Regions from separate parts of the Homo sapiens genome. Here all the other regions are linked to region 1. The links come from fine-mapping of genetic effects on gene expression. A gene starts in region 1. Each other region holds a variant in brackets. All regions are shown on one strand. Distances are from middle to middle.

Region 1 (2,760 bases):
TATCCCATAAGCACTCCTAAAATTCCATCTTTGGAAAGGCACATTTGAGGCCTGTTCTCCAGTCTCCTGTCTTGGCTGCCTTGTGAATACACCCTTTCTCTACTGCAAAACTTGTGCGCCTCAGTGATTGGCATACTGTGTGAAAGACAAATGAGCCTGGTTCCCTGACAGGAGCTGAGCTGTCTCTTCCTGCATGCAGCCAGCAATAAAGATTCCTCTAGGAGAGGTATGTTCTCCACGCCAGAGCGAGAAAATAGCTCTCATCACCAGAGATTTGGAACTGGAGGTGGCATTTGGACTGGAGTAAACATTCTTGCAAAGTAACCATTATCTTCCACCTGTTTTACACCCCACCCCCCATATATCTCCTAGGGGCTCCCCTAGAAATTTTTTACCACCCTAGCCGGATTTTCTTTGTCCTGTCACTTCTTCTTAAATTTATCACTCTTTTTCTAAAAAGTATAAAAGCATCTTGCTTTGGACACTTTCTTCAGGATTCAGTCTCTTAACATCCCCATGTACATGTAAAATTAATAAAATTTGTATACTTTTCTCTTGTTAATCTGCCTAGTGTCAATTTGGCTTCTAGATGCAGCTGATTAGCTCACTAAGAGCTAGAGGGTGTAGGGGGTTGGAGGTGATCTCTGCCTCCCTTATTGGTGAACTTGATTTTTGTAAACACTCAAAAGTCACTTAGGCTAGAGTTGGAGATGGAGATGGTTATTCACTGGGAAGGCCACAAGAGAATGTTTTAAAGTGATGGAAATATTTCATATCTCGATTATGGTGTAAGGACATTTCATTATATATAAATTATATATCAATTTTTTAAAAAGCTCTCAGACCAAGGCTAGTCATTACAGCAAGAAAATAGGCATAGCAAATTTAAAACTTTGGAGAAATATATAGAATATTTGCATATGGTGATTCTGATTTGCTTTAAAAGTGACATGATTAATGTATTTAGACAAAAATACTCTTCGTTTTTCTTTGCTTTTATTTACGATCAGGATACAAGAATTCTACGCTGCTGCCAAATAAATGACTAGTTAAAATTAACTAACTGAATCCTTAACAACCATTCTAAGAGGCAGATATTATTATCCCACTTTATGCGTGAGGGCCCAGAACCCTGGCAAGGGCGGCACACTCAGTACGCTCTTCAAGCATCTGGGCACACCCGGTCCACTACAGTCCTACAAAGTCGGACGTGAGCACGGGCGAAGGCGTCAGCCGGGGCCACACGGGAGTCACTGACCACAGCCAGGCGAGAGCCGGCTTTCCGGTGCCGCCACATTCCGGGCACCAGGCTCCGGGCTCTTCAGAGCATTTGGGGCGGGCGACGGAGGTCCCGTCCACTCTCGCTTGGGTGCAGAAGGGCGCGGCGGTGCCAGGAAGCCGCCTTGGAGGCTCCAAGATTAGCTCACTCAGCGCGGCCAAGCGCAGGTGCGGGGGCCCTCGCCGCCACCCTGCTTATCTGGGGACAGTCCCGGAACCCGGTGACCCGGCTCCGCCCCAACCCGCGCCCTCGTCCACCCGCAGCAGCCAAGGCCTCTTCCCCGGCCCCGGGAGCCCGCGCCACGCCCGTCGCTCGCGCGTTCCAGTCCAGGCTACAGCAGGTATCGCGATCCCGGCCCTCGGCCCCGCGCTCCCCTCCCCCGCCCCTGGCGCTCTCCGAGTGTGGCCGACCATGAGGATTCCCAGTCTTGCAAATCGTGGGAGCGTGTCAACCGCCCCGTTTCTTTCCAAAGCCGGGCATGGCCCGGAAGCAGCTGATCAGATCTTAGTTCTGAATGTATAGTTCGGGTACGAGAATGTGACCCGTGAAAGTTCAGAGGAGTTAAGTAATTACAGCGTTCTGAAAGCGAACGTTAAAGGGAATTTACAACCGAAAAAAGATGCCGGTCTTCTTCCCCCATCCCAGCTTGCAATTCACAGAAGCACACATTAGGGTGGAGCCAGAAGGAATTACGGAAAGGACAATGAGGACATTGAGAGGGAGGGTATGGGGGGTTAAAGTTAGTCCTCCGAGGCCAAGAAGCAGAGTGTCTTGGCCTAGTGTCTGAAAATCGCAGCGCAGGACGGAACTTCCGAGAGCCTATACCTCCCCACTTCCCCCTCCAGTTTACAGATGGGCAAACCGCTGTCCCGGGTGTCTGTCAGGTCTAGTAGCCCAGAATCTCAGTGCCTAGGCTTCACTGTAAATAATAAACTATGTAAATAACATTTACAAATATCCTTTGTGAGCTCAGAAACTCAGCATTACCAGTAACTGGGTAGTGGAACGCATCCATCTTCGTCGTTTACTCCTTCTCCAGGGGCTCTCCAGCCTGCATTCCATGGCCAACAGCAGTGCAGCTGCAGAAGCACTTCTGGAAGCCTCCTGACTTGAACTAGACCTTGGGTAAATAGGGTTTAGATAAGTGGAGGGGAGGGAAAAGTTTCACCTGAGGGGAGAATGAGCTAGTCTGCCAGACCCTTATAAAAGTATTGGCCTGGATGGGATGGAGGGCTTTGACCTGAAAGCCACAGGGAGAAGGGAACCCTGAGGAATTGGCTGAAAGAGGGGGGTTCTTAGGAAATGCACCAACAGGGAAGCCAGCGCTTTACCAGGGATTTCATTCATGGTGGGTATATTATTAATAGAGATTCGAATTCTCTAGAAGCTGATCATTTCTAAGAGAAACAATATTTAAACATTACTGTCGAAGGAAAGGTTGTGGGGAGAAAATGTTCTAGTTCTAAAACAGAACACCCATT
Region 2 (2,760 bases), 29 kb after region 1:
TACTCTCCAGTCCACAATTTGTTGTAATATATAGTCACTGAGTCTCAATTCCAATCACCATCCTTTCTTTGAACAGCTTTTCTCCAAAGCCCATCTATAGGGCTAGAAACAGAGAAAGGTTTCTGGGAGGAAAGAGGGAGAGAATATGGTAAAGTAATAGCACTATGGAGCAAGTAGAGTTGGGGCACCCAATGAAAAGGTAGACACAAAGGCTGTGCACAAAGGACCACCATTTCCTGATCTCTGGCCTGTCTCCGCCTCTCAGGTCCCTGGACTCCAGAGACTCAGCTACATGTTTCCTTAGGCATCTCTCCTTGCTCTTGTGCCAAACCCTCTCCTCTAGCACATCTCATATTCCACCACTTTCCAAGGCTGAGTGTGTACCTCCAACCCAGGGGTAGCTAATAGAGGTGGAGAGCTCATCAGGCAAGGCACTCTGTCTGCTCTTAAATCCCACAACCCCATTCCCTGGCACACACCCAGTCCGCGCTCCTCTGTCCACACGAGTGTGCTCTCTTTGCTTCTATACTGGGAGTCATCAAAAAACTTATTTCCTGATCCCAATCTGTTGGGAAAGATTTCTAAACATTTTTCTATCATTTTCCTTTTCCTGGAAAAGTCCCACTATACAGTAAGTTCCAGAAGGACAGGGACTATATCTTATTTGTCTTTATTTTTTGGAAAGCACCTAGCATACTGCCTGGCCCATAGGTACTCAATAAATGCTTGCTGAATAAATCAGTGGGTGAATGAGAGAAAGAAAGGGAGAAGGAAGGAAAAAGAAAGAGAAAGGAAGAAAGGAAAGAAAAGAAAGAAAGAAAGAAAGAAAGAGAGAGAAAGAAAGAGAGAAAGAAAGAAAGAAAGAAAGAAAGAAAGAAAGAAAGAAAGAAAGAAAGAAAGAAAAAGAAAATGTCCACAAAGAAAGAGCCTATATTTTAGAATGAGAATTAAGATCGCAAATCTTAACTCTAGGGCATAACTCTAGGGCATATTTCTTTTCCACAAATAACACAAATGGAGCAATGCAATGTATACAGTTTATGTGGTTTATGCCTTGTGCAAAGGTGCCTGACAAAAGGCTGATGAGGCTGA[C/A]ATCCAAGCTAAGTTCTGAACCCTAGCATGAGGCTGCATCTGCCTGGAACAAAAGGCAAAGTTTTATAATTTACACAAAGACTGCATATGTGCTGGCGGAAGGGCTGGCAACTTTGGAATTGTGTCCTCCCTATGCTCCAAGTACTGTGTAATAAACTCCTCATATGAGCCCTTCTCTAGTTTTGATTTCTTTTCTGGGTTTGAGATTAATAGAGGTTTCCATGACAATGAATATCCACTTGGCAGGTAATTTTTCCATTCTTTTTTGGCCCCCTGTCTAGGGTTTTAGGAACAAAGCCTTCCTGGATTGACACATTTATTAGAACCCTTCTGCGTGCAACGAATGCTAATGTGATTGCCGTGGACTGGATTTATGGGTCTACAGGAGTCTACTTCTCAGCTGTGAAAAATGTGATTAAGTTGAGCCTCGAGATCTCCCTTTTCCTCAATAAACTCCTGGTAGGTGCAGAAGAGCTTAGGGTGAGTTTGGGCTGCGTATGAGGAGAGAGGGTCAGAAAGACAAAAGCACTGCCTGAGGAGGCTTAGGGTGGAAGCAGAGTCACCAGGTAGCTCGGTGGTCTTGGGTTCAAATCTTGACTTTGCCACTCACAGCACTGACCTCGGGCAGCTTATTGAATATTCTGAGCTTCCCACTGCTCCTCTGTAAAATGTGTCGTGGCACTTTAGACAGCGAATGCAGATGGCCTGGCACTTAGTTGTCCCTCAAGAGAGAATGGCCATGGTCGTTACTCACATACTTTGGGCACCAAAAGGAGAGTAAGGGGGTTGTCAGGGTGGGGAGCCCAGGAAGAGAAAAAGTGATTAACAATGAGAGTGCTGTCCTTTTTCCCTCCAAAGTAAGTGTGGTGGGTGTGTCATGCCCAGGGCCTCGGCTTCTGAAGCTTTGGGGGAAAGCCTGCCACTGTGAAGCCAGCAGACTCTGTGGCCCACGGGGAACTCACTGTTCCTGCTCTTCTAGGTGCTGGGTGTGTCGGAATCCTCAATCCACATCATTGGTGTTAGCCTGGGGGCCCACGTTGGGGGCATGGTGGGACAGCTCTTCGGAGGCCAGCTGGGACAGATCACAGGTAACATTCCTCCCTGCCCATCCTCCAGGCTTTAGAGATAGAGAAAGCTTGCCCTGAAAATATCTCTTCTAAAGCAAGCAGAGGGGAGTACAGAGCCTTTGTTCTCACGATCAAGTCACCTATTACCACTAAAATTTATTTATTGTGGTTCTTTTGCATAAAATGGTATTGTGTTATTATTGCATGATTTCTAATATCAATGTGAGAGGCCATGTATTTCTTCTTTTACTTTTTATTTTTAAGTTTCTTATTTAAAAAAACTTTTAGATTCAGGATTTACGTGTGCAGGTTTATTACATGGGTGTAGCATGTGATGCTGAGGTTCAGGTTTCTAATGATCTCATTGCCCAAGTAGCAATCAGTACTTGATAGGTAGTTTTGCAACCCTTGTCCCTTGCTTTTCCTCCCCCTTTTGAAATCCCCAGTGTCAATTGTTCCCATCTTTGTGTCCATGTGCACCCAATGTTTAGCTCCCACTTATAAGTGAAAACATGCGGTATTTGGTTTTTTGTTTCTGCATTAATTGGCTTAGGAAAATCACCTCCAGCTACATTCATGTTGCTGCAGAGAACATAATTTC
Region 3 (2,760 bases), 110 kb after region 1:
CCCCTGGTACCACCACCTCTCTCTCCTCTCTACCCTTCCCTTTCTGAAAACCCCACTCAATCCTGATACTTCCTCCCCTACTACCCTCCCAGCTTCTGATCCCCATCCTCAACCTATAAAAACTTGTCCCTGTAGGGTTAGACCCACTAACAATCCTGAGGTTCCTTAGATTGTCTATGCCCTTGGAATAAGGCTGAAATCCATGTTAAAGCCAAGGAATTTCCTAAAGTTACCCAGGACCCTCTTTGCTTTGCTGATGAATTTAACATTACAATTGAAGCTTACTAGCCCAGCTTCTCTGATCTTAATCAACTTGTCCACATGCTTGTGGGAGAAAGCCAGGCTAATCACTGGATGAAAAAGGTCAGTTGTGGCTGGGTATGGTGGCTCACGCCTGTAATCCCCACAATTTGGGAGGCTGAGGTGGGCAGATTACCTGAGGTCAGGAGATCGAGACCAGCCTGGCCAACAGGGCGAAACTCCGTCTCTACTAAAAATACAAAAATTAGCCAGGCCTGGTGGCACACATCTATAATCTCAGCTACTCAGGAAGCTGAGGGAGAGTCATTTGAACCCAGGAGGCGGAGGTTGCAGTGAGCCGAGGTCACTCCATTGCACTCCAGCCTGGGTGATAAAGTGAGACCCTGCCTTAAAAAAAAAAAAAAAAAAAGGAAAGAAAGAAGAAAAAGGTCAATTGCACACACCCTGTATTAGTCTGTTTTCATGCTGCTGATAAAGACATACCCAAGAAGGGGCAATTTACAAAAGAAAGAGGTTTAATTGGCCTTTGGCCTTACAGTTCCACATGGCTGGGGAAGCCTCACAATCATGGTGGAAGGCAAGGAGGAGCAAGACCCATCTTACATGGATGGCAGCAGGCAAAGAGAATGAGGAAGATGCAAAAGTGGAAACCCCTGATAAAACCATCAGATCTTGTGAGACTTATTCTCTACCACAAGAACAGTATGGGGGAAACCATCCCCGTGATTCAATTGTCTCCCACTGGGTCCCTCCACAACATGTGGGAATTATGGAAGTATAATTCAAGATGAGATTTGGGTGGGGACACAGAGCCAAATTATATCATTTTGCCCCTGGCCCTTGTCAAATCTCATATCCTCACATTTCAAAACCAATCATGCCTTCCCAGGAGTCCCCCAAAGTCTTAACTCATTTCATCTTTAACTCAAAAGGCCATGGTCCAAAGTCTCATCTGAGACAATGCAAGTCCCTTCTGCCTATGAGCCTGTAAAATCAAAAGCAAGTTAGTTATTTCCTAGAAACAATGGGAATACAGACATTGGGTAAATACACCTATTCCAAATAGGAGAAATTGGCCAAAACAAAAGGACTACAGGGCCCATGCAAGTTTGAAATCCAGTGGGGCAGTCAAATCTTAAAGCTCCAGAATGATCTCCTTTGACTCCATGTCTCATATCCAGGTCATGCTGATGCAAGAGGTAGGTTCCCATGGTCTTGGGCAGCTC[C/T]ACCCCTGTGGCTTTGCAGATTACAACCTCCCTCCCGGCTACTTTCATGGGCTGGTGTTGAGTGTCTGCGGCTTTTCCAGGTGCATGGTGCAAGTTGTCGGTAGATCTACAATTCTAGGATCTGGAGGACAGTGGCCCTCCTCTCACAGCTCCACTAAGCAATGCCCTAAGCAGTGCCCCAGTAGGTGTAGGGGCTCCAACCCCACCTTTCCCTTCTGCATTGCCCTAGCAGAGGTTCTCCATGAGACCCCTGCCCCTGCAGCAAACTTCTGCCTGGGCTTCCAGGCATTTCCATACATATTCTGAAATCTAGGTAAAGGTTCCCAAACCTCAATTCTTGACTTCTGTGCACCCTCAGGCTCAACACCACATGGAAGCTGCCAAGACTTGGGGTTGGCCATCTGAAGCCATGGCCTGAGCTCTATGTTGGCCCTTTCAGCCATGGCTGGAGTGGCTGGGATGCAGGGCACCAAGTCCCTAGGTTGCACACAGCTTGGGGACCCTGGACCCAGCCCATGAAACCACTTTATCCTCCTAGGCCTCCAAGCCTGTGATGAGAGTGGCTGCCATGAAGACCTCTGACATGCCCTGGAGACATTTTCTCCATTGTCTTGGGAATTAACATTTGGCTCCTGGTTACTTAGGCAAATTTCTGTCGTTGGCTTGAATTTCTTTTCAGAAAATGGTATTTTCTTTCCTATTGCATTGTCAGGCTGCAAATTTTTCAAACTTTTATGCTCTGTTTCTCCTTTAAAACTGAATGCCTTTAACAGCACCCAAGTCACATCTTGAATGCTTTGCTGCTTAGAAGTTTCTTCCACCAGACACCCTAAATCATCTCTCTCAAGTTCAAAGTTCCACAAATCTCTAAGGCAGGGGCAAAATGCCACCAGTGTCTTTGCTAAAATATAACAAGAATCACCTTTACTCCAGTTCCCAACAAGTTCCTCACCTCCATCTGAGACCACCTGAATCTGGATCTTATTGTCCATATTGCTATCAGCATTTTGGGAAAAGCCATTCAACAAGTATCCAGGAAGTTCCCAACTTTTCCACATTTTCCTGTCTTCTGAGCCCTCCAAACTGTTCCAATCTCTGCCTGTTACCCAGTTCCAAAGTTGCTTCCACATTTTCAGGTATCTTCTCAGCAGTATCTCACCCTGGTACCAATTTACTATATTAGTCCATTTTCATGCTTCTGATAAAGACATACCCAAGAAGGGACAATTTACAAAAGAAAGAGGTTTAATTGGGCTTACAGTTCCACATGGCT

Evidence for each region.
Region 2: its variant is fine-mapped to the expression of ADPRH in whole blood (INTERVAL, PIP 0.92).
Region 3: its variant is fine-mapped to the expression of ADPRH in whole blood (INTERVAL, PIP above 0.99).

Annotation. Positions count from the first base shown.
Region 1 is chr3:119,578,233-119,580,992 of GRCh38, forward strand. It overlaps ADPRH (ADP-ribosylarginine hydrolase), which reads left to right and starts at 1,260. Exons shown (of 5, transcript NM_001125.4): 1 at 1,260-1,619; 2 at 2,319-2,404. RefSeq lists enhancers at 864-1,365, 1,150-1,249, 2,190-2,409 and a silencer at 1,430-1,569.
Region 2 is chr3:119,607,397-119,610,156 of GRCh38, forward strand. PLA1A (phospholipase A1 member A) reads left to right here. Exons shown (of 11, transcript NM_015900.4): 3 at 1,374-1,551; 4 at 2,072-2,180. Among named protein-coding and RNA genes, the nearest start is that of PLA1A, 11 kb to the left of the region's middle. The variant C/A (reference allele first, on the strand shown) is at 1,093.
Region 3 is chr3:119,685,037-119,687,796 of GRCh38, forward strand. No RefSeq gene overlaps it. Among named protein-coding and RNA genes, the nearest start is that of COX17, 9.0 kb to the left of the region's middle. The variant C/T (reference allele first, on the strand shown) is at 1,488.